Homo sapiens: one gene and its partners. The protein of the gene in region 4 purifies or fractionates together with the protein of the main gene of each other region. This does not show direct contact. Each region holds a gene or a part of one and is shown on either strand. Other genes may lie near its edges. The genes, in order: RNF146, MARK4, BRINP1, PARD6G, RASSF8 and CDH5.

Region 1 (4,241 bases), on a different chromosome or scaffold from region 4:
GCATTACATACTATATTCTTACAATAAGCTAAAGGAAAATAAATTCCTAAGGAAGAAAAAATACATTTACAGTACTGCATTTACCGATACTGTGTTTATGTTACCTGTTTATAAGGTGTCTGTCTGAAATGATGGGTAACTGCAGCTGCAGACCCATCTAGGGTGTGTACCAGGTAATTTAACTTCTTGTAATGGCATGACTTCTTGGCTTCTTGGGAGCACTTCTAGCATCACTAGTGGCACTTCACATGGGTCCCATGGTGTTATTCAAGGTTTATGGTATTGTACTAAACATGATGAAAAATACACAAGAACAAGAGATTACATTTTACTCCAATACATGCAGAGATGATTAGTGTCCACAGCATTTTAAGTGGAAATTCATAATAGCAACAGGAAATTATTACAGTATGTACTACAATTAATTTTATACAGCTATGATTCATACTGCATCTTTACATTTGTTTAAATTTCTTGTACCACCTCAAGTGGCACCATATGTGTCTGTGTTTACTAAGTTTTGATACACTTTAACTTCTTATAATTTCTCTATATTTTATAATACTAAATGATAAAATAGACTATATATGTTTTATGCATTCATAATATACCTAATTTTTTCTTTTCCTTTTTTTGATGTTTCAAGACTACATGATTCATCTGCAAGTTTTTTCAAATTGTCACAAATCTCCAAAAAAATTTCCAACATATTTATTGAAAAAACTGTATGTATATAAGTCAACTTGTTCATTTCCAACCTGTGTTGTTGAAAGGTCAGCTGTATGAGGTTATCGTCAAAGATCTTTAAAGAAAGAAATGACATCATCAATATTTTGAAAATTAGAGAAAGCCATTTCTAAAGGAATCCTAGAAATGACTTCAGGCCAGAATTAGAAAAAAAAAAATTGAAGAAATAGGCTAAATAAATATGTCTTTGGCTGTGTTCTTTTGAAAATGGCATTAATGTATAGAAAGATACTCGAATGTGAGTTATGGTCACTGATACATTCTTTTGTTTACTGCTGAACATAACTGGACTAGAGGAGTGTAATGAGGGCAAGGATGTTCTTTCTGTTGAAGGAGAAAGTTTATATTGATGGAAAGTCATTATTCATAGATACTTTGCTGTTATTTCAGTACTATTAAGTAAATAGTTCTCTGCTCCTGGGTTTGTGTGTGTGTGTGTTTTCTTTATAAGGGGCTTTTTCAAATAATTTTGCTATTGATAAGTTACTTGAATTTAATCATTAGTCTTCAAATAAGGAAAGCAGAATGAGAGAATGCATCTCCTTGAATTAACCAGATTTTTTTTTAGTACCTTTGTTCTAGTGGATATGTAGCAAAGCTTTTACTTTAATATTTGTGGCTATAGCTTTATTTCAGCTATGTGAAATAGTTTTATAGGAAAGATCACAGCTTATTTGGGTGTTCAAATATGGGTTCTTTAGAGGATTTTTTTGTACTTATTTTGAAGCTGCTTTGTTTCAGTTAACTTAGATTCCTTTAAGAATCAACTTTTGTTTCAGAGATAAAATATTTATGGATAAGACCTAAGTAAAGTAAGTGAATAGAGAGGAATAAATTAGATTGGTTACAGATAATGTGTAAATGCATTCAGGAGATAAGGAGAATTAGAAACAAGGACATTTTTTGTGTATTTCTTAGGAATAAAATGGTACCTTCTACACATCTCAATTATTAAAGTACAAATAGTGATTGAACGAAATTTTTAGAAGAAATGTTTTAATTGAATCTTCACACTAGAGGTTTTACCATTCAATCAATTAGGTTCTGAGAAGGATGGATTGGTACATCTTAAAAGACTTGTAAGATAGCGAAGGATAGGCAGTGCTAATGACCAACAGCAACACTCAGCAGGACTTTGTGGACCAAAAAACTTCAAGTTAGAATTGTGGGTAAAGGCTGGGCATGGTGGCCCTCACCTGTAATCCCAACACTTTGGGAGCCTGTGGTAGGAGCATCACATGAGGCCAGGAGTTTGAGGTTTAAGTTACCTGCAGTCATACCACTGGACTCCTGCCTGGTTAACAGACGCTGTCTCTTAAAACAAAACAAAACAAAAGAATTGTGGGTAAAGTAAGAGCAAATTGACTTTTGAGTGATGGTCCGAAAACCTTTGTGATGGGTAAAGGGTAGAATGTCTGTATAATTTTTCTGAACTGGAACACTTGTTGGGAGACCAAGGGCAAACTGGATAGATGCTGGGCTGACCTATGTGGTCATCCTAGTGAAGAATCATAAGCTTTATTGGGGAAAGAGCTTTGTGAAGCTGTTTTGGCTGTTCAGAAACCCATCTTGGTTTATGCTTAGATTTTTATCTCCATTTTGGAGAATTCATTGACAATGAACAATAGCTGGGTAAATGATTTGCTTGCCAAAAGATACAAAGATGGGTTGAATTTTATATTTGTAAATGTAGGAACTCCTTTAGATTTTAAGTTATATAAAGCAAGGATTAGAACTTAGATATTTTTATGTATCTTACAGATTCCAGCTTGAGTTCACAATTAGAACTCAAGTGTTGTGTTATTTGAATAAATCTAATCCTTTGATATTCTGTTCCTCACAATAGTTACTTTTAGGAGTTGATTTTTCATTCATCCAAAAAATATCAGTTCAACAAAAATTGATTGACAATTTACTAGCTATTTAAAGATATAAAAATCTCCCTATCTTCAGGGGATTCATGATTTCACAGAAGAGTCAGACTTCACAAATGAATTGAAATTAGTGCATGTGATAAATTCCGTAATAGAAAAACATACAAAACATAGAGGAGAGAACAGTTAACTTTCTGGAGGTAGTCAGAGAAAATGGTAGAGATAACCATTTCTGTGTAATATATTAAAGAACAAATAGGCATTCATAAGCTGTAAAAGGGAATAGATCGTACCAGGCAGGAGGAAATACAGAGCTACAAAGGGAGGTTTGCAGGACTATGAGTAATTTTATACAACTAGATTATTAATCTATGGGTGGTTGTTGAAGATAAAAAAGACTAGAGACTAATTATTTACAGTTTAGATCTTTAAAACCTTTTAATGTTGTCCTAAGGAGCTTTGTCTTTATTGTGTAGGCTGAGGACCCAATATTGTGCTTCACATATGGAAGAAACCTGGTCCATTTTGCCTTTTAAATATATCAGTCAGTCCTAGCTACTTGGGAGGCTGAGATGGGAGGATCGCTTGAGCCAAGCAGTTTGAGGTTTTAGTGAGCTATGATCATGCCACAGCATTCTAGCCTGGGAAACAGACTGTAGAGTGAGTGTATGTGTGTGTGTGTGAGAGAGTGAGAGAGAGAGAATCTCACTCAAAGGCTTAATAAATGAGGGTGATACTGACACAAGATAATCAGGCTGAACAATAGTCCAGGTGAGAGTTATGTAGGTTTAAACTAGGGCACTAGCAATGGGTAGAGAGTACAGGATAGATTCCAAAGGGATTAGGAATAAAAGTTGACAGAATTTATGGTGTGGTTGGTTGGGGTGGGGGAGCAGGGGGCTGTGTGGTGAGAGAAAGGACTTTCTCTTTTTCTCCATGAACACAAAGTAGTTAAGACATGAAACCTGAGATGTCATATTGTAAGAATTATGCAGAAATGGGGGTTTGTAAAATGTGTGTATATGAGATAAAGATATGAGGGGGCCAAGGGTTCTGTTAAGAAGTAAAAAAGATTGGGTTCCAGAATGGGCAGGAAAGGAAATGAGATCAGGAACTGGATAAAGGAAAGGAGATGGTCAAGAGATGGTAGGTCCCCATGAAATTGAAGAGCAGGTGTGGGAATGAGTAGGCTGGAAGAACCAGAGCTTGTGATCTGAGAGTCGGATTAAGATTTCAGAGAGGCAGCAGTTTAGGTGACAACTAGCTTTAAATGTGATTATAATATTTGGTTGCTGGAGAGTAGATTAATTTCTTCAAATTTAGGATTTAAGGAACTGAAAATTGAGGATGGTGTTTCTCAGATTGTATTTGAAGGACTAAAGCATGAGTACCACCTGGGGTGAGATTCCTAGGTTTAAACCTATGTCTACTGGCCTAGAATTTCTAAGGAAAGGGGCTGAGAATATGTATTTCTAACAAGCAATTTCAGTGATTCTGATGAATAGAAGTTGGGACAAGTTTAAGAACCTGTGCAATAGGTGTTGGATGGTTCATTTTCAAGGCTATTTAAATAGGCTGATAGTCATGTCAGGAGTTAGGATGAAGAGGATGATCAGTAGT
Region 2 (3,255 bases), on a different chromosome or scaffold from region 4:
CCTTGTCGCCTTCACTTCTACAGGAGGGGAAGGGGCCAGGGAGGGGATTCTCCCTTTATCATCACCTCAGTTTCCCTGAATTATATTTGGGGGCAAAGATTGTCCCCTCTGCTGTTCTCTGGGGCCGCTCAGCACAGAAGAAGGATGAGGGGGCTCAGCGGGGGGAGCTGGCACCTTCCTGGAGCCTCCAGCCAGTCCTGTCCTCCCTCGCCCTACCAAGAGGGCACCTGAGGAGACTTTGGGGACAGGGCAGGGGCAGGGAGGGAAACTGAGGAAATCTTCCATTCCTCCCAACAGCTCAAAATTAGGCCTTGGGCAGGGGCAGGGAGAGCTGCTGAGCCTAAAGACTGGAGAATCTGGGGGACTGGGAGTGGGGGTCAGAGAGGCAGATTCCTTCCCCTCCCGTCCCCTCACGCTCAAACCCCCACTTCCTGCCCCAGGCTGGCGCGGGGCACTTTGTACAAATCCTTGTAAATACCCCACACCCTCCCCTCTGCAAAGGTCTCTTGAGGAGCTGCCGCTGTCACCTACGGTTTTTAAGTTATTACACCCCGACCCTCCTCCTGTCAGCCCCCTCACCTGCAGCCTGTTGCCCAATAAATTTAAGAGAGTCCCCCCCTCCCCAATGCTGACCCTAGGATTTTCCTTCCCTGCCCTCACCTGCAAATGAGTTAAAGAAGAGGCGTGGGAATCCAGGCAGTGGTTTTTCCTTTCGGAGCCTCGGTTTTCTCATCTGCAGAATGGGAGCGGTGGGGGTGGGAAGGTAAGGATGGTCGTGGAAGAAGGCAGGATGGAACTCGGCCTCATCCCCGAGGCCCCAGTTCCTATATCGGGCCCCCCATTCATCCACTCACACTCCCAGCCACCATGTTACACTGGACTCTAAGCCACTTCTTACTCCAGTAGTAAATTTATTCAATAAACAATCATTGACCCATGCCTACTCCATGCCAGGCCCAGTGCTGGACACAGAGACATGAAGCTCTGTCTGTGGGAGACAGGGATTCTGACACAGACACCGGACAAACCATTGTCTTGGGGAGCCCAGAAGAGAAAGTGGGCAGGGTGGGGTCATTGGGGAAGATGCTCTAGAGGAATTAATGCTGGAATGGGGTGTTGAAGGATGAGTAGGAGTTAGTTAGGCATTGAGTTTGCCCTGGGCAAAAGCCCAGAAGTGGGAGTATGTGGTATATCTTCAGAGAACTGGGTAATTTCAGTGTGGCTGCTGTGTTGGGCATGGATGGAGAATCAGCAAGAGAAATGCTGTATTAGGACTAATAATCCATCTACGCTGCTTAAGCAAAAAGGTATTTGTTGGTTTATGTTACTTAATAGTCCAGGGGCACCTGGCTTCAGGTAGGTTTGATCCAGGCATCAGGCCATTGCATCTATTTTTTCAGTGTAAGTTGAATTCTAGTAATTTTTATCAAGTAAGGGCTCCTTTCCTGGTGGCACAGATGACTTCAGCAGTTAGAAGTTTCTATCCCTCCAGCTTTCTGCAGCAGAAAGACCCTCATTGTCAGTTTCCCAGCAAAAGTCCCAGGGCAGACTCTCATTGGCCCAAATGGGCCATGTGATTTTCTCTAAACCAATCACTGTGACTCTAGAGTGGCCAGACTCAGAGCTGCACTTAGTAGGGGTTCCTCAAAGGAAGGTCAAGTGTCATGAGCAGGAGAAAAGGCATGGGAGCTGGACAGATTATAGTGGTTGAAGTCTGTGCAGTACAGAAGGGCGGAGCTTATTCACACAGCACCTTTGGGGCCAAAATGAATAAGCTGGACTTTCTCCCCATGGCACTGGGGAACCATGGAAGTTCAGGGAACTTCAGGGAAGAGGCTTGGTCAATTCCTGAGAGCATCCTCTGTGCTGGGGACACAGTGGTAATCAAGACAGCCCCAACACTGCCCTCATAGAGCTCACAGTCCAATGGAGGAGGCAGATGTGTCCTCAGGCAGCGACTGGGCAGGGCTGGTATAGGGGAGTCCAGAGGTGATGCCTGCCTCAGCCAGGGAGGGCTTCCTGGAGGAGAAGGAGCCAGCTAGACATGGATAGGAGTGCGTTTTAGGCACAGCAAATGGCACATACAAGGGCCAGGGAGCAAGAGAGAGGACAGGTCCTCAACAAATGGCATGTGACTTTGTAAGTGTAGAATTGCTGTGAGGTATGGGGCTAGGGGCGTCAGTAGGGCCTTGAAGGTTATGGACAGGGGCCTGGGCTTTCTTCCAAGGGCACTGGGGGAGCCATGGCAAGGTTGTAGGTAGGGTAGAGATGGGCGGGTTTGTGCTATGTGCAGGGTGGAAGGGAGGGAAGTTGACAGGTCAGAAGATCAGGAAAGAGGTCGGGGCTGGACAGATGGGGAGAGCGCAGATAGATTTAAGAGAGTCCTGTGAGGCAAAGTGGGCAGGACCTGGTAACAGGTGTCTGGACTGTGGCTTTGGCTGGCTCAGAAGGTCCCCACTGGCGTGTGTGGTCTATGTAGCCTCTGGGTGTGGAGCTGGGATCTTCAACTGGGGACAGTACAGTAAAGAACATCACAGCATCTCACAGGTTCTGCATACCTTAATGTTTAGAATCTCTCCTAACCTTCCTTGTAGTAATCTCCCTGGGAACTTTTGGGGACATCCCTAGGCCTCAATTTCCCCTCTGTAAAACAGAGGGCAGATTGAACTACAAGGGCCCTTAATCTCTGTGACTCTTGAGGTTTGAAAAAGCACCTTAGGTTCCTGAGGGCTTTGTCGGTTCTTCCATTTACTCCCACCTCACTTTTTTTTTTCCCTAAAACGTTTGTCTTTTGGGGCCCACCGACTGTGTCCTTGTTAACGTAGACATTGGCCTGTTTGACTGGGTGGAGGTGATTGACGTGCCCAACACCCAATGCATGTTCAGCTACTGCTTGACTTCTATTAACTCTTCTCCCTCCACCAATTGCTCTACCACACCTCTTTCCTGTTCCTTCCTGGGACTGAGTTCTCCAAAAGGCCTATCCCTAAAGACTTCATGGGGATGCTCAGACTCACAGATTGGAGAGGGAAACAGCTTGGTCAAAGACATTGAGGTGGGAATTGGAGGGTGTCAGGTGTGAAAGAATCAGAGGAGTAATGGGGAAAGAACTGGAAAGGTGAGCCTCCAGCAAATGGTATGCATTTCAGTGTGGCCTTGAGTTGCAAAATAACAGAAAAGCTTTCTAGGAGAAATGGGGAGCCATGGCAGGTTCTTGAGAAAGTAAGGGACTGGCAGCAGCTACAGAGGGATGAA
Region 3 (4,241 bases), on a different chromosome or scaffold from region 4:
TTTGTCCAAAGCCTTTCCACGACAAGATATGCAATAAATATTTGCTGATCCAAACTGAAAACTTCCAGCTTTCATTCTTTTTCACAACACTTCATTTAAATTACTTTATCCCCACATATTCATTCTCTCCTTCCTTTTCTATCCATTTCCCCTACTCTTGTTTCTCCTCCTCACTTTACACTGTTGTATCTCCAGGGTATGGCATTCAGAGTAGGAGTAGAAATTAAAATGAGAAAACTTGTAGAAATTACTGATTAAAAATGGACATAATAAAAACCCATCAAAAGTACTTGACAATGACCTTCTGTCAATTCTCAAACTCTCTTTAGTCCTCAAACTACCTGCCTTCCAACCAGAGATGTCAAGGAAAAGATGTCAAAACTTCTCACTCTCCTGTACAGGCCATTGTGATCTGCCCCTGCCTACCTTCCTAATTCCCTTTTATGTCATGTTCCCAATTTGAAAGCTTCAGCCACACTGGCAGGTAGTCCATCTCTTAGACTTCCTAAGCTTGTCCCAGTGAAATGACTCCGTGGCTTGTTTGGTTTTGTTTTGTTTTTTGAAACAGGGTCTTACTCTGCTGCTTGCTCAGCTGTAGTATAGTAGTGCAATCACAGATCACTGCAGCCTCAACCTCTCAGGTTCAAGTGATTCTCCAACCTCGGCCTACGGAGCAGCTGGGACTACAGGTGCCCAGCTGTTTTTTTAAAGATGATTATTATTGTTGTAGAAATGGGGTCTTGTTATGTTTCCCAGGCTGGTCTCAAACACCTGGGCTCAAGCGATCCTCCCACCTCAGCCTCCTAAAGTGCTTTGATTAGAGGCATGAGCCACCAAGCCTGGCCAACTCCATTTTATTCTTCTCTCTGCCTCTAATGCTCTTTCCCCACAAAATTACATGGCTGATTCCTTCTCATTTAAGCCTCAGTTCCAACATCACTTTCTCAGAGGAGGCTTCTCCTGGCTACTCAATCGAAAATTATACCATCCACATTCCTTTCTACCACATTACCACGACTAGTGGTGTGACATTTAATATTATATAAAATTATCTTGCTTATCTATTTGTTTACTCATTGATTATTCATCTCGCTCCTCTAGAGTGTGAACTTAATGAAAACAAACAAGGCCATGGCCATGTACATGCTACATTTCTAAAGCCCAGACCTGTGCTATTCAATAGAGTAGCCATGAGCCACATATAGCTATGTAAATTAAAATAAAAATTAATATAAGTTAAATAAAATTAAATATTCAGTTCATCAGCAACACTGGCCACATTTCAAGTGTTCAGCAATCATACATGGTTAGTGGCTACCATATTGGACAGCACAAAAAACATGTCCATCATCACAGACAGTTCTATTTGACAGCTCTCGTCTACAGCAATGTTTGGCAAACAGTAGGCACCCAATAAATATTTGTTGAATAAATCCTCACTCAATTTCAGGTCATCCCTCCCTTTTTTTTTTTTTTTTTTTTGGTGGCATCGAAGCCCTAAAAGTGAGGTAAACTAGACAATTTCCCTAGGACAGTATTCAGGGTGCCAAGAGGCCTCCAAGCAGATGCTACAGAAGACAGGGCTGTGAAGACAATCCCCTCTATTCAGAAAGAAAACTGTTGTGAAATAATTATGTTTTCATAATATTCGAAGAACTGAAAACTGGAAGAGAATTGCACTTGTGTGATTTCAGAGACATATGGATAGAAGGATGATTTAGGGGCAAAGTAAGAAAATATTCCAACAAAGCTCTTCAAATATGACATAGGCTGGTTTGTGCGGTAATGAACTTGCTATCACTAAAAGTACTAAAACTGAGACTGAATGGTCATGTATTATTGGCATTACAAAAAGGACTCGTCATTCCTGAAAACAGAAAAGTTTGGTCATTGAGAAACCTTCAGAGGTTTTCTTTGATCCAGTGACTCATGACACCTTCATACCATCAATTTCAAAGAGCTCATAATAACTCCCAGCTATTCCTAGCACCTATTGAACAACCCGATGTTGCCAACCATTCATAATAGTTACCATTAACTCAGTGGTCCAGTGAAAAGAGCAGAGATGACGTAAGAAGGAAGACAGTTTCAAATTCTAGCTGTGATGGTTGTGTGACCTTGATCAAGGAGTCTAACCAACCTGGGCTTCACTTTCCTCTTCTGTAAAAGGGGCTGTATCTGTCCCACTGGGTGGAAAGAACGACTACATGAGAGAACAAAACTAAAGACCCTGGAACACAGGAAGTCAATATTCACTTCCAGGTAGGGTCTAATTTTCATCTGTCTATATTATCATTGGAATCCCCATATTCTTGGTATAGGCAAAAATGCCGTAACGGCATTGCTTTAAATGAACATGAAGCAATTGTTAGCTAGAAAGTGTGAGAGACAGAGAGAGAGATGACAGTTGCTATTGAGATGCAACAGGAAATGCAAGGGCAAACATTTATAAAGCAACTACTCTGTGTCAGTCCCTGGAATACAAAGATGCTCCTGAGACCATACTGAAGAGGGTAAGATAGACCTATACCCCCAGCGCTATAAAGCAGGGCAAACAGAGACACAAACTAAAATAGAGTTTCAGATAAAATGGTACAGAAAAATCAGGTGATAAAGAGATTAATTCCAAAATAAGATCTTGAGAAGACTTCTTGGAAGGGTCATTTGAGCTAGATGTTGAAATATGGGTGGAATTTTGTTAAAAGTCGTGGCTGAATGTGGGAGATGGTGGAAAGAATAATAAAGATAATCTTTGCAGAAGGGAGCACAACTGGAAAAATTATTTGAAGAATGACATTTAAGGACCTGTCTTCTTCACATGACCTCCATCTTGTCTTTAACATGGTTACCAGTAGTTCAGCAGCCAATTTGTTAAGCTTTGTATTTCAGCAAGGGAAAAGCAGGAAAAGACGGGTAGGGTATGTCTAACCTTAATGGCCCATTCAAGTGATAATGTACTGGTGATTTCCTCTAAGGAATTGGGAGGGGAAAAGAGACAGGTTGCAAATCAAAAAATGTCTCCTTGCACAACTGAAGGGGCCTTTGGGCAAAGACCTTTTCAGAAAAATAGAGGACTTTATGATCCATAACATAAACTCTTGCAAGCACTAAGAAAGAGATGTTGAATTCGAACCTATCAGGGGAGGGTGTTTTTACAATTCTTGCCTGTACCAGCGGCAAAGATACTCATTGCAGCCTGAGCTGGGTCGTCTAAACTCAACGGGGGCCCAAGAGCTGATTTGGCATCTCTGAGCTGTTTCTCCTTGGTTGAAATGGAGTCACAGCTCCCCCTTCTGGGAGCTAAAGTGCCATCTAGCCCCGGAAAATCCTGCATGGAAAAGGCTCTATTGCAGATGGGCCTAAAACCCCCATGTTTTTCAGTATCTGCCTGCACCCCGAAACAGGCATCTAGAAGTCTAAGAGCACGCTTTTGAGTGAACTCGATTCTGACTTCTCCAGGGTCTCTCTTTCACAGGGCTTTACATTTCTCCTTCCCTGGAGTTTATGGGTCCTACTCTTCACATGGGAGATGCTTTATATGGGAGAACACAATTTGGTGTGGAGGTTCTCTTTTTTGGAAATGTAGCAAGCAGGAAAGGTTTCTGGATCTTTGTGTGCACATGTGTGTATAAGCACACCTATGCATGTGTGCTTGCATATGCTTCTGTGCCTGTAATATGTATTAATGTCTAGGGGTGAGATTCTAATTAATATAAAGAAATTAATTTGCCTGAAGTATTTGCACTGGTAGATGGGTGTACATTTTGCTCTCTGGAAACCAGTGCATTCCTTAATAAAAATCTTAGATACAGACCAGACACTTTGCTGGGTTCTGCCTACCAGTCACACTCAGTACTGGGTCCTTGCTTGTCGGTAATTCCCTAAAGACATTGGAGAAGGAATCTATGTTCTCTCTCTGTCTCTCTCTCAGTCCTCCCCCCACCACCGTGTGTGTGTGTGTGTGTGTGTGTGTGTGTGTGTGTGTGTGTGTGTGTGTGTGTGTGTCTTTCGGGAATAGTGATTGAGGCATTGGATCTTTTCTCTTCAGGGCCATGTTTCCAGATAGAAAAACCCTGAAATGCATCTCTGAAAATGTGAAGTTTGATGAGGGAAGACAAGCGATTGTCTTGGTAGGGGTCATGGTGGCAGGTTGGCAAGATAGGGGTGGGAGCAATATACAGTCCTAGAGTGTATATTGCTGGGAGGAGTGGAAAGGGTATTGATCTAGCTGATTGATAAGC
Region 4 (4,241 bases):
GGTCTCATGGTGAATTGTAATCCCCAGTGTTGGAGGAGGGGCCTGGTGGGAGGTGACTGGATCATGAGGGCAGAGCTCTTATGAATGGTTAAGCCCAACTCCAGGTGCTGTTCTTGTGATGGTGAGTGAGTGAGTGATCACGAGATCTGGTTGTTTTAAAAGTGTGTAGCACCTTCCCCCTCTTTTAGTCCTGCTCCTGCCATGTAGGATGCCTACTCCCATCTTGCCTTCTGCCATGAGTAAAAGCTCCCTGAGGCCGTCCCAGGAGCAGATGGTCACCATGCTTCCTGTGCAGCCTGTGGAACCGTGAGCCAATTAAGTCTCTTTTCTTTATAAACCACCCAGTCTGTAGTCTTTCTTTACAGCTATGTGAGAATGGACTAATACATATACCAACTTCCAAAGCAATTTCCTTGTATCACTATATGGCTTTCGTTTAACTGAATACATAAGATAATTTAATCATGTCTAATGCAACTAGTAAGAGTGTTTTTGAATTTTATATAATTCTCACTTCAGTATCACCGCAAAGGGATACAGCTCACTTTCACCTCAGGAACGCCAGGCCTCCCTGAAACAGCATAGGCTAAATGTTAGTTCTACAATGTTTCAGTCTTAACTTTATTTAGCAACTAACCTAAAACACATCTCAGTTTCTCAGTACGTTCAATAATTTTCTCAAAATATGTCTTAGCATGTTAACTTGAAATGAAAAATAAATTCAGACTGTTTCCTGAGAGAAAACAAGGTTGATTTGTGTTTAATGATGAGGCTGACTTTGCCAACCCAGCTATATGGTAAACATGCTTCATATGTTGAATGAGCTCCAAAGTTTTGACAAAAAGAGATGTGAAATGTGACATGACAAAAGCATTGTATTTAAAAATCATATTGGTATTGGGTACTAAATATTTTTATTTCCCCATGATATCAGATTAAACAAGAGTCCTCTAAATGAAGGAATTAGCAGGTATAATTCATTGTCACATACTTCTTGGTAAAGTCCTTCCAGTATACTTACCAGAAACTGAAACAGTGAATGGCTCTAATGACCAGGCAATAAACCTTGCAAGTCAAGTAGTTTCCAATTACTTGCTTTTGACAAAATATAAAGTTGTCCTAACTGAACTGTCAGCTAATTATCAAAATAATTTTGAGAGACCACCCTATTATTTTTGTCACACAACCTGTTGAGAGTTCAAAGAACTGAGCTGTGCTTAGGGGCCTTCACTCTCATCTACCTGAGTGTGCAAATGAAGCTTCACAGTGTTGACACCCAACAATAAAAATTGCAAAACAATTAGTGCCAGCCTACCTCATTTATCAATAAATACTTAACAGTAAATGAAAGATTCTTCAAATGTTTATTTGGATGGCTAGTGATTATCAATAAATACTTAACAGTAAATGAAAGATTCTTCAGATGTTTATTTGGATGGCTAGTGATTATCAATAAATACTTAACGTAAATGAAAGATTCTTCAGATGTTTACTTGGATGGCTAGTGATTATCAATAAATACTTAACAGTAAATGAAAGATTCTTCAGATGTTTATTTGGATGGCTAGTGATTATCAATAAAGACTTAACAGTAAATGAAAGATTCTTCCGATGTTTATTTGGATGGCTAGTGATTATCAATAAATACTTAACAGTAAATGAAAGATTCTTCCGATGTTTATTTGGATGGCTAGTGATTATCAATAAATACTTAACAGTAAATGAAAGATTCTTCCGATGTTTACTTGGATGGCTAGTGATTATCAATAAATACTTAACAGTAAATGAAAGATTCTTCAGATGTTTATTTGGATGGCTAGTGATTATCAATAAATACTTAACAGTAAATGAAAGATTCTTCCGATGTTTATTTGGATGGCTAGTGATTATCAATAAATACTTAACAGTAAATGAAAGATTCTTCCGATGTTTATTTGGATGGCTAGTGATTATCAATAAATACTTAACAGTAAATGAAAGATTCTTCCGAAGTTTATTTGGATGGCTAGTGATTATCAATAAATACTTAATGTAAACGAAAGATTCTTCAGATGTTTACTTGGATGGCTAGTGATTATCAAATTGCACAACTATGTTCCAATCACCATTTGATAATACTTGTTAATAACTCAATCTAGAAATTTACTATAACAATCTATTTCATTTATAATTGTGGTAAAACACACATAAAATTTACCATATTAGCTCTTTTTAAGTGTACAGTTCAGGAGTGTACATTCACACTGTTATGCACCCACTCTCTAGATTGCTTTTCATCTTGCAAGCTAGAACCCTATACTAGTAAACAACTTAAAAATATTTTTAACAAATAGAGCCCCAGGACCACAAGAGAAAAATATTTGAACTTCAATTTATACATATTTTTTGTTGCAGAGAAGAGTAACAGGGGTAACGAAGCATAAGTTATTAGAATAAAATATTAGGACAAAAATCTCTTGAGGGAGTAATGGGAAGAAGAAATCAAAGAGAAAAAGAAACCATGTATAATTTCTGATTAGAAAAGAGCTCTTCAGAGTCAGAAAAGTGGCAAAAATAAGAGTCTGTTTATCCTATTTTAAAATGCATGATAGTGGTATCAAATCACTGCAGCATTTAGATTTCACTGTATCAAATCACTGCAGCATTTAGATTTCACTGTATCAAATCACTGCAGCATTTAGATTTCACTGTATCAAATCACTGCAGCATTTAGATTTCACTGGCTGTATTTAGAAGATCATGCACCAAAAACTTTATTTGTAATGGAATATTTACAGCATGCTGTAAATTACATCCTTTGCAAACTATTTATATTTACTAAAAAAAATTCAGGTACCAACTTAAAAATATATCATCCCCTTTTATAGTGGTAGTTTTTCAAAATTCTTTCAGGCTTCATGTGACATTTGAAGACCACAACATCAGAGTTCAGGGATCACTATGAAAATGCCTAAACCACCATTAAAGGTTAGCAGGAGACTTGGCACTCCCTAATATTTTCATTGTTTTTCATGTGGGTGTTTGTTCGTATAGCAGGACTTACAACAGGACGGCTGCTTCAACATCTGCTGGGCTTCATTCATTCACCTACTATCCCGCACATAAAATGCCTCAAAGGGAGCCATCCTATCCCGGGAGGTCATCTCCTCACTCCAAACCAGTGACCAATTTCAATGAAAGATCAATACTCAAGCCAGGCATGGTGGTATACACCTGTAGTCCCAGCTACTTGGAGGCTGAGGCAGGAGGATCACTTGAGCCCAGGAGTTCCAGGTCAGCCTGGGCAACATAGCAAGACCTTGTTTATGTTAAAAAAAAAAATCAAATTTCCTAAAAAAGATTGCATTGCTGTGCCTGGCCTAGGTTAGTAGCAAGTTAATAGATAACCCCATCAAAAAGTCCACATTGGCCAGCGATGGCTGATGTCTGTAATCTCAGCACTTTGGGAGGCCAAGGGAGAGTCCGAGACCAGTCTGGCCAACATAGTGAAACCCCATCTCTACTAAAAATACAGAAAAACTTAGGCAGGCGTGGTGGCACACGCTTGTAGTCCCAGCTACTTGGGAGGGTGCTCCAGGAGAACTGCTTGAACATAGGAGGCAGAGGGTGCAGTGAGCCAAGATTGCACCACTGCACTCCAGCTTGAGTAACAGAGTGAGACTCCATCTCGAAAAAAGAAAACAAACAAACAAACAAAAAAAAAAAACACACCTTTCCCTCACCAGTACCCTGACACTATGAGCTGTATCATTTCCCCTTAAAAGGACCCATGGTTCCGAGGCAAAATGGCTAATTCCAGGTATATGGCAAGAAATGTATGTAAGCCTATGAATCCCATGTTTATTTTTAAAGAATAAGATTATTTGTTATTGGGAAATACACAGGTGTGCAAATTCTTATTCTTCAATGCTTCTAGCTAAATGAACCCTCATTCATTATTTAGATAATGATTATTCTATTTTGTAGTTGACCCCAACTATTATTCCTACAACAGGATAGTAAAAAACGGGGTTGGGGGAGATTTCATCTTTTAAAATTATTAAAAATTATCTCAAATACAAAATACCAAGATCAATAAGCAAAAGCGTATCAGCATCTGGCTAGGTGTGGTGGCTCACACCTGTAATCCCAGGACTTTGGGAGGCCAAGGCAGGTGGATCGTTTGACTCTAGGAGTTTGATACCAGCCTGGGCAACATGGGGAAACCATGTCTCTACAGAAAAGTACAAAAATTAGCCAGG
Region 5 (4,085 bases), on a different chromosome or scaffold from region 4:
GTGGATAATTAACATTTTAAAAGTCCCCCAAACTAGGACTTATTGGTATTTTGAATGACTTTAAGTTTCTCATTTCATCTTTGCTTTTATAACGTACTATTATTCTCATATATATACTTTTTTTTTAGAGTGAGACTCTCTCTCTCTCTCTATATATATAGATGGGAAATTGTTTCTTCTATGTGGCCCTAAAGAAAGTTGAAATTACTAGGAAATTTACTTTGGCTCAATAAATACTACTTTGGCTAAATATATATATATGTGTGTGTGTGTGTGTGTGTGTGTGTGTATGTGTATATATATGTGTGTGTATACATAATGTGTATATATATATGTGTGTGTGTGTGTGTGTGTGTGTGTGTATAGAGAGAGAGAGAGAGTCTCGCTTTTGTTGTTCAGGCTGGAATGCAGTGGTGCGATCTCGGCTCACTCCAACCTCCGCCTCCCGGGTTCAAGTGGTTCTCCCACCTCAGCCTCCTGAGTAGCTGGGACTACAGGTGCCCGCCACCACGCCCAGCTATTTTGTTTTTACTTTTCGTACAGACGGGGTTTCGCCACGTTGGCCAGGCTGGTCTCGAACTCCTGACCTCAAGTCATCTGCCCACCTTGGCCTCCCAAAGTGCTGGGATTATAGGCGTGAGCCACTGCGCCCGGCCCTCATGTATAATTTCTAAGTAAAGGTTTAACTTCTTATAAAAATATTCCTATAAAAATGACAATTTATATACTTCCACATTAAAAAGTGGTTAAAATGCAGAAACTGGGCACCGTAAAGCTCATGCATCTCTACCATGGAATACAGAAAAGTGCCTTGAGGTCTGAAACATCTAAGTTCAAATGCTATGTCAGTTACTTAGGGGTTGTGTGATTTAGGAGCAGTTCCTTGGATGGCTGTGAATGTTTAAAGTGTGACCGGTGCCCCATATTGCACTTGGCACGTAGTAGGGACTGAAATGTTAGTTCTCTTCCTCTCACTTATGGTTTTAGGGAAATCTGGGAATACAGAGATTCATTAAGATATCATTTCTTCTTTCACTTTTGAAATAAAAGGCATAGTAGTTTCTTAATTCAGTTTTACTTTGATGAAGCCATCTTTGGAGCAGTAGATGATTCTTTAAGTATATATGAAAAATGTAATTATGTGTAGTGATATGTGCCACTATTCTCTTTGGTATCTTTTAAAGGAAGTAAAATTGTATTTAAAAATATAAAGGATGTAAGAAACAAACTGACAACTGTAATGCCCCAATGAATCCTGAAAATTTATTATTTGGGAGAATATCCAATATTGATTCTTTGTTTTACAGCTCATAATGATCAGAAAATATACATTTAAAATGAAAGTCAAAGAAAAGGATAATTACATATAATACATATTACAGATTTATTTGTACATAAGCAAAGCAGTACTAAAAGCATATTTATGTGCTCACAATTAGTGAACATGGCAATTTTCTGTTTAAAGCTGCAGCAACTCAAATCCTCCTAGGGTCAATAAAGAAAAACATATTGAGAAATACATTTAGGGCTATCACCATGTCTGGCTGTAAATCTATTTTTTAATCTTTCCCCTCCCCCCATATATATGTATATACTTTATTGCCTTTATATTTCTGCTGGTTTAATATAATTAGTATACGAAATAGTTTTCTGCATTTATTTGGTTTCTAAAAATATATAAAATGCATTGAAAAGAGCTCCTGCAGCTTTCAGGCAGTCACTGTCCTGGCATCGAAAGCTTATTCTGGAGATGTAAAGCAGCAATACTGAATAAATAGTGATTGTTTTGTCTTTTTGATACAGCTGATGGCCTTCACCCCAAACTTAAAAATACTGTAGCAAATAGTATAAACATGCAACTTAAAAAACTGAACACAATACAAAAGTAATAATTATAAGCTAATTTTAACACAATATAAACCAATAAAGACAACTTTAGGTAGGAGAGGGATGTGAACACAGCATCGTTATATAAATTAAGGCCAAATTTATCAAAGGCAATGCACAATGGGAACTGTCCATCTGCCCAAGCACTTTGCATGCCTGAAATCAAAAGTTTTTGTCTTTTCTGTGTTATTTCCTCAATCCATTACAGTTCTATCTTGGAAGATGTTTACAGAAATGGCTTCAAATGAACAGTCTGTTTCTCTGAAGACCATTTTGCTCTTATTCACAGAGAAAATTATCCTTTAATGCAGATGTAAATTACATTTATGCTGTGGAAGCAAGTGCTTACATGTTCTTGTTATATATTGCTATACTTCATATTTCACACCATAAATTCTATTTTTTTTTTACTGTATTTATATAGTTTTTACTCTATCAGTCTTGCTGTAGCTCTTGTTTATGACTAATTTGAACTATAGGAATTGATGATTACCTCATTGATGACTGGGAGAATTAAATAGGTAACTCCTATTAATACCAACTGAAGTCTCATATTATAAAAAAGTCCCTGTGCATCAAGACAAAAAACAAAATGTTATCAAACCAAAATATCTCAGAAGGACAAGAAAGGGACTATGGACACTATGTCCACAGGCAACACACTATGGGCCATTCTCTGAGGATGACAGACACTCAAAAGGTCAAATATACCAATGCTATTCCAAATTATTTCTTGGTAAGATAAAAAGATCTTTAAATGTATTTAATACTTGTAGAAAATCACAATAAAACAAGTTGCAATATGATTTTTTTAAAAAAAACACAAAACATTGAAATCTAATTTAGTATTTAGAACCTGAACATTCCCCCAGATGAAAATTTTATATTTGGTATTTTTGTATACCATTGCCCACTACCCCTCCGAAATGTATCCAGGATGTGGCACTTATCTAATTCATTTGTATTTGCAATAGATAAAAATGATCACAAATATACTAAAGTATCTTCAGATGATCCTATGAAAACGAGTTTTTTTCCCTCTGAGTCTTAGAAAATATTCCTTAGATATGTGCTTCCAGAAGTAATATAACTAATTAAAAAGTACAGCTTCTCAATGTATTCAACATATTCACATTTCTATACTTTCGTCGCCTAGGAAATTTTTTTAAATCTGTAATTAGGTCTATGAAGATTATTTGGCAGCTTGGAAATTCTGATGAAGTTGTCAGAGAGGTTAACTGTGATACTCTGCTGGGAACCCAAGACTACTACAAGTTGCTAGGATGCTGCTTGTCCTTACTTAAAGTTATTAGGTTAATTCTGATAACAATTTATAATGAGTTGGATATTGACAGTGTTTTTCGTGGTATGCCAAGGCATCTCTGAAACTCCTAATTGCAAAGTTTAATACTGCCTCCAGTTTAACATTTTGACTTAAAGAAAATGCGATCAATTTATAAAATGTTTTTCTTTGTGAATAAGATCTTGATTTCTCTGAACAACAACAAAATGACTTTATACAGAATGACTTATTTAAAAATAAGGCATATATTGGGCATATGTAAATCATTACTGTCACAAAATCTATAAATTATTTTTTAATCATCCTAATTTTAAATATAGGTAGATAGAAAATAACTACTATAAATTGTGAGCAAATGTGTACAGGTTGTGGTTATTTAGGTAAGAATCATTTACTTCAGTTATTTGCAAAGTAACATAATGGCAAGATCAATTTGATAACTCCAAGAACCCAAAGAAACTCATATCTTCAGTTGAGGTCCGCCACTTAGCTGCACTAGAAAAGGCAACTCTGCATTATGACTTTCAGTTCTCTAGAAGCTTCTATACAGTCTCATAGCCATTCTTAAAAATTTCATAGGAAACCTAAGTAGAGCAGCATTGTCAGCATTCACTAAACCAAAGTCAGTCAAATGTGTTAAAACATCCAAAGTTGCCTTCATGCATAAGACATAGCTCTATTGTTACCATGGCATTACTATATTAATCCACTTTTATTTTGTTGCATGTAAATAATACAGAGGATGTAACTTCTTCAGAATTAAAACTACTTTAAATTTCAGATTAAAGTCTTAATTATACTGTACCAAATCTAACCAGAGGGAATGTAAAAATGGCTAAGTGGTGTCTGACTGAATCTGTCTAAATATTACTTGTAAATCTTAGTTAAGTCACTA
Region 6 (4,241 bases), on a different chromosome or scaffold from region 4:
CCTGCAGGGGAGAAGACTGTCACCATTATGGGCTCAGCTGATGCTGGCCTTGGGCGGTGGAAGATGTGTGGAAGGAGGGCTGCCCTATGGAGGCCACTTTTTGCAGGAGGAGGCTGTGGAACAGAGGCCCAGGATGGTGTTCTGGATAAAAGGAGTTTGGTGGGGGGAGGTGTTAAATCTCATCCATAAGGTTTACTGAGGTATTACTTTGATTATGAGAATCAAAAAGGTAAACCACCTAAGTGCATTAAAAAAATTGTAATTAAATTCCTAAAATTAAAAATTTAATTATTTGATTAAATACATAAAACATAATAAATTAATCATAAAAGAATTGAAAAGGTAAACAACCTAAGTGAGATTGGGTCAGTAAACTAGGCTACCGGAAAAGACTGAAATGGATGGCCACTGACAATGCCTATGTCACTTACATCTTAAACATATAATTAAAAAAAATTTTAAGGCCAGGTGCTGTGGCTCACCCCTGTAATTTCATACTTTGAAAGGCCTAGAAGGGAGGATTGCTTGGGGCCCAGAGTTGGAGACAAGCCTGGGAAACATGGTGAGACCCCATCTCTACAAAAAAAATTAAGACATTTGCTGGGCAATGTGGTGCACGCCTGTAGTCCCAGCTGCTCAGGAGGCTGAGGTGGGAGGATCATTTGAACTCAGGAATTAGAGGCTGCAGTGAGCTGTGATCGTGCCACTGCACTTCATCCTGGACAACAGAGTGAGACCCTGTTTCTCTCTTAAAAAAAAAATTAGTACCATGAGAAAGTGGTTCTGGAATAAGGTTAAGTAAAGGTTAAGTAAAAATGTGGAATATAATATCTTACACAAACATTACAATCTCATGTAAGTATAAAAATATGTATAAAAATAAAAATACATGAATGTGCTAATAGTAACTGTCTCTGCATGGTGGCATTGGTGGGAGGAGTATTTTCTTCTCATTTTCTGTATTTTCCGTATTTTAAACCATTTAAATGTAAAGAGTCTATGAATGGGATTATGTGGAGGAGAAAGAAGCAAAGACTGATCTGGCCAAACATGCAGGAGTCCATTACAGTTTGGGGCAGCAGCTGTGTTGGCAGAAGTGAGTCTGGGTGGGCCCGGCAGGCGCCAGGGATCCTTGGCCTAGCGGGCTCCTGGGTAAAGTGGGAGTATTAATAGTTCTCCTGGAGGGTGATTGTGATTTTCTAATATAGATAGAGGATGCAAAACTCCAACTCTTGCCCCTCCCTCTGGCAAAAATTACACAATTTCTAGAGAAACTCACAATCTCAAAATTGGAAGCTGCTTCACATTTTGAATTCTACCTATTAACTGGTGCATAAACACCCTCTGAAGGAACATTTCCCAAACAGCCATGATAACTAAGAATCATGGGACCCTTGTTAAATGCACATCTCTGGCTCACTGGACCAGAACCTGCAGGGTGGAGTAGAGCTTTATGCTTAATAGGTGACTTGGGTGATTCTCGTCACAGAGACATCTGCACAGCCTGTTTCATGACAGTGGTTTTCAAACTGTGACATGCATGAGATTCCGATTCAGTGTGGGGGTGAGGCCCGAGATGCAACAAGGTCTCAGGGGATGTTGATACTGCTGGGTTCAAGGACCACACTTGGGCATGGGAGCTCTATAGCATCCCAACCAGCGGGTGCTTCAGCAGGCACTTCTAATACGTCTAGAGACCCCAAATTATTGATTATGCCAGTTTTGGAAGAATGAGGGAAAAGGAAAAGAATCCAGGTGCCCTGGCAGATGTGGCCACTCACCAGTGGAATCCAGTTCTTTGGCCTCCACAGTCAGGTTATACCAGGGGTAGACTTCTCTGTCCAGTTCTTTCTCATTGTAAATGTCCCCCTTTTTTGTGACTCGGAAGAACTGGCCCTTGTCACTGGTCCTGCGGATGGAGTATCTGCCCAGGGGAGAGAGTTTCATGGCTTTCCATTGTTCTTTGCTGAGTCTACACTCCTCAGCATGATGGACAAGGCCCTTCTGCATCTGTCCCCTGCATCCCACTCCATGCCCCTCTCTCACTGCTCATTGCACTCTGCCACTCAGACAAGAGTGGACCTACACAGAGGGATTCAGGATAGCAAGATAATGTCTTTGATCTTAGTTACATTGCCATCACTGGACTGGAGGTGGTACCTGAGACCATCAGATGCACTTTCAGAGCTGAACAGGTGACATCACACCATAGCTGGGACTTGTTTTAGTGATTAATGAAAAGATCATTGGGCAAGAGCCAGGAAGGAATACAAAAAGAGCTGGAAGAGATAAGAAGTAATTACAAAGAAATTAACTTTGTGAAATAAAAAACTTAAAAAGTTCTTTCAGAAATCAGGAAAAATCTATGGAAAGATAAATATATATGTTTTGTGTATATAGGAATAATAGTTGCTATTAATGAGGAAAATCCCAGAACAAACAGAACAGAAGAAATAACAAAAAAAAAAAAAAAAAAAAAGAAAAGAAAAGTTTCCTGATCTGAAGAAAGGCTTGAGTCTACACATTATAAGATGTCATTGACATCAGGCATCATTGAAAAAAACCCCAATACTTAGGCAAATCCTGACGACACTTACGAATTTCAAGGCTGTGTGAAGAAACTGAAAAGAGTCCAGACAGAAAGAAATAATTTCCTTATGAGGAAAGAAAAATCAGATTTGCCTCAGATGCCCCCACAAAATTAAATACTAGAATACATTGATAGTATTTTTGAAGGGAAGTGTTTATAATCTGAGGATTATACGAATACATCTAGGTGTTATTAGAAGGCAAGGTTGGGCATGGTGGCTCACATCTGTAATTTGAGTGCTTTGGGAGAGGCTGAAGCTGGAGGTTTGCTTGAGGCCAGGAGTTCAAGACCAGCCCAGCCCAGGTGACAGAGTGAGACCCTGTCTCACCAAAAAAAAAAAAAAAAAAAAAAAAAAAAAAAAAAAAAAAAAAAAAGATTAGCCTGGTGTGGTGGTGTGTGCCTGTAGTCCCAGATACTCAGAGGCTGAGGTGGGAGGGTTGCTTCAGCCTAGATGTTCAAGGCTGTAGTGAGCTATGGTTGTGCCACTGCACTCTAGCCTGGGTGACAGAGGAAGAACCTGTCCCCCCCACCCCCCAAAAAAGGCAAAGAACTAAGATATTTGTGTCCTGAATTTTTTTTTGAAAACTTACTGTATCTAACTAAACATCTCAATATAAAGTAAAAACCTGGCATGGGAAGAATTAAAACAAAACTATTGATTTTTTTTATCATACATAGAAAAGCAATGGGTGTGTGTATGTCTATAATAGTTTTAACTAGAAAATATAGGTCCAAGAAAACATTTTAAATTTTGCAGATAGAAGTAAATCTCACTGGTAGAAATAAAAATGGATGCACCTCATCCAAATATCTAGGAGAAAAAAAAAATAAAGAAACATAGACTGTATAGCAAAGATGAGGAAAAAGAAAAAAGCCATTAAATTTGATAAATGAGAAATGTAAAACAAGATAAAAGAAGGAACATCAAACATATCAATTATGATGAAAAATGTAAATAGGTTAAACACAAAGCATTTCAGTTTAGATTAAAAAGCAAAGCCAAATGCATTCTTGTTTTCAAGAGACAACTTAATGCCAAATGACCTGGAAAAATTAAAAGTAAAGGTTGTAAAATTTGCATTAGGCGTATATGAATAACATGAAAACAGGACTAACAAATGTAACATCAGGAAACAGAATTAAAGGCAAAATATTTAAGCAGAACAAATTGGCTAATTACATTTGGATGAAAGTTACAAACCATAATGAAGGTAAAATAGTTGCAAACCTTTGTTAACTGAATAGAAAAATTTAAATACATAAAGTCAAAACTTAGATATTCTAGGAAGAAGTGGACACAAATACAATTGTATCACATCACAGAACAAGCTAAAGCAAAACAAAAAAAACACCCTATGACTTATAAATGAAAATAAAGAAATCAAGTCAATCTCTTAAATAAACCCTTGGATCAAAGGAGAAACAAAAATTATAATTACAGGCTATTTAGAAAAGAATGGCAATGAAGAGTAGTCCCAAAACTTAGGATATGAGGCCAAAATGGAAGAACATATTTTGTCCTTAATAAGAAGACTTAATACCCTTGAAACATTAGCTATACCAAAATTAATATATAAACACTAGAATTCTAATGTTTAAAAAACCTGGATACAAAATTTTAAATTTCACAAAAGAAAAAATGAGAGTTGAC

Evidence for each region.
Region 1: the proteins of PARD6G (region 4) and RNF146 purify together in Homo sapiens (affinity purification with western blotting; one study listed by BioGRID). This does not show direct contact.
Region 2: the proteins of PARD6G (region 4) and MARK4 purify together in Homo sapiens (co-immunoprecipitation; one large-scale study listed by IntAct). This does not show direct contact.
Region 3: the proteins of PARD6G (region 4) and BRINP1 purify together in Homo sapiens (affinity purification with mass spectrometry, with the first as the bait; one large-scale study listed by BioGRID). This does not show direct contact.
Region 5: the proteins of PARD6G (region 4) and RASSF8 purify together in Homo sapiens (co-immunoprecipitation; one large-scale study listed by IntAct). This does not show direct contact.
Region 6: the proteins of PARD6G (region 4) and CDH5 purify together in Homo sapiens (co-immunoprecipitation; one study listed by IntAct). This does not show direct contact.

The regions. Positions count from the first base shown.
Region 1 is NC_000006.12:127,272,869-127,277,109, forward strand, and holds part of RNF146 (E3 ubiquitin-protein ligase RNF146), read left to right. Parts: intron 1-4,241. UniProt on the Homo sapiens protein: E3 ubiquitin-protein ligase that specifically binds poly-ADP-ribosylated (PARsylated) proteins and mediates their ubiquitination and subsequent degradation. May regulate many important biological processes, such as cell survival and DNA damage response.
Region 2 is NC_000019.10:45,302,746-45,306,000, forward strand, and holds the end of MARK4 (MAP/microtubule affinity-regulating kinase 4), read left to right. Parts: 3' UTR 1-2,539; downstream 2,540-3,255. UniProt on the Homo sapiens protein: Serine/threonine-protein kinase. Phosphorylates the microtubule-associated protein MAPT/TAU. Also phosphorylates the microtubule-associated proteins MAP2 and MAP4.
Region 3 is NC_000009.12:119,362,557-119,366,797, forward strand, and holds part of BRINP1 (BMP/retinoic acid-inducible neural-specific protein 1 precursor), read right to left. Parts: intron 1-4,241. UniProt on the Homo sapiens protein: Plays a role in neurogenesis and brain development. May suppress cell cycle progression in postmitotic neurons by inhibiting G1/S transition.
Region 4 is NC_000018.10:80,205,431-80,209,671, forward strand, and holds part of PARD6G (partitioning defective 6 homolog gamma), read right to left. Parts: intron 1-4,241. UniProt on the Homo sapiens protein: Adapter protein involved in asymmetrical cell division and cell polarization processes. May play a role in the formation of epithelial tight junctions. The PARD6-PARD3 complex links GTP-bound Rho small GTPases to atypical protein kinase C proteins.
Region 5 is NC_000012.12:26,070,026-26,074,110, reverse strand, and holds the end of RASSF8 (ras association domain-containing protein 8), read right to left. Parts: 3' UTR 1,242-4,085; downstream 1-1,241.
Region 6 is NC_000016.10:66,393,742-66,397,982, reverse strand, and holds part of CDH5 (cadherin-5 preproprotein), read right to left. Parts: intron 1,925-4,241; coding exon 1,782-1,924; intron 2-1,781; coding exon 1-1. UniProt on the Homo sapiens protein: Cadherins are calcium-dependent cell adhesion proteins. They preferentially interact with themselves in a homophilic manner in connecting cells; cadherins may thus contribute to the sorting of heterogeneous cell types.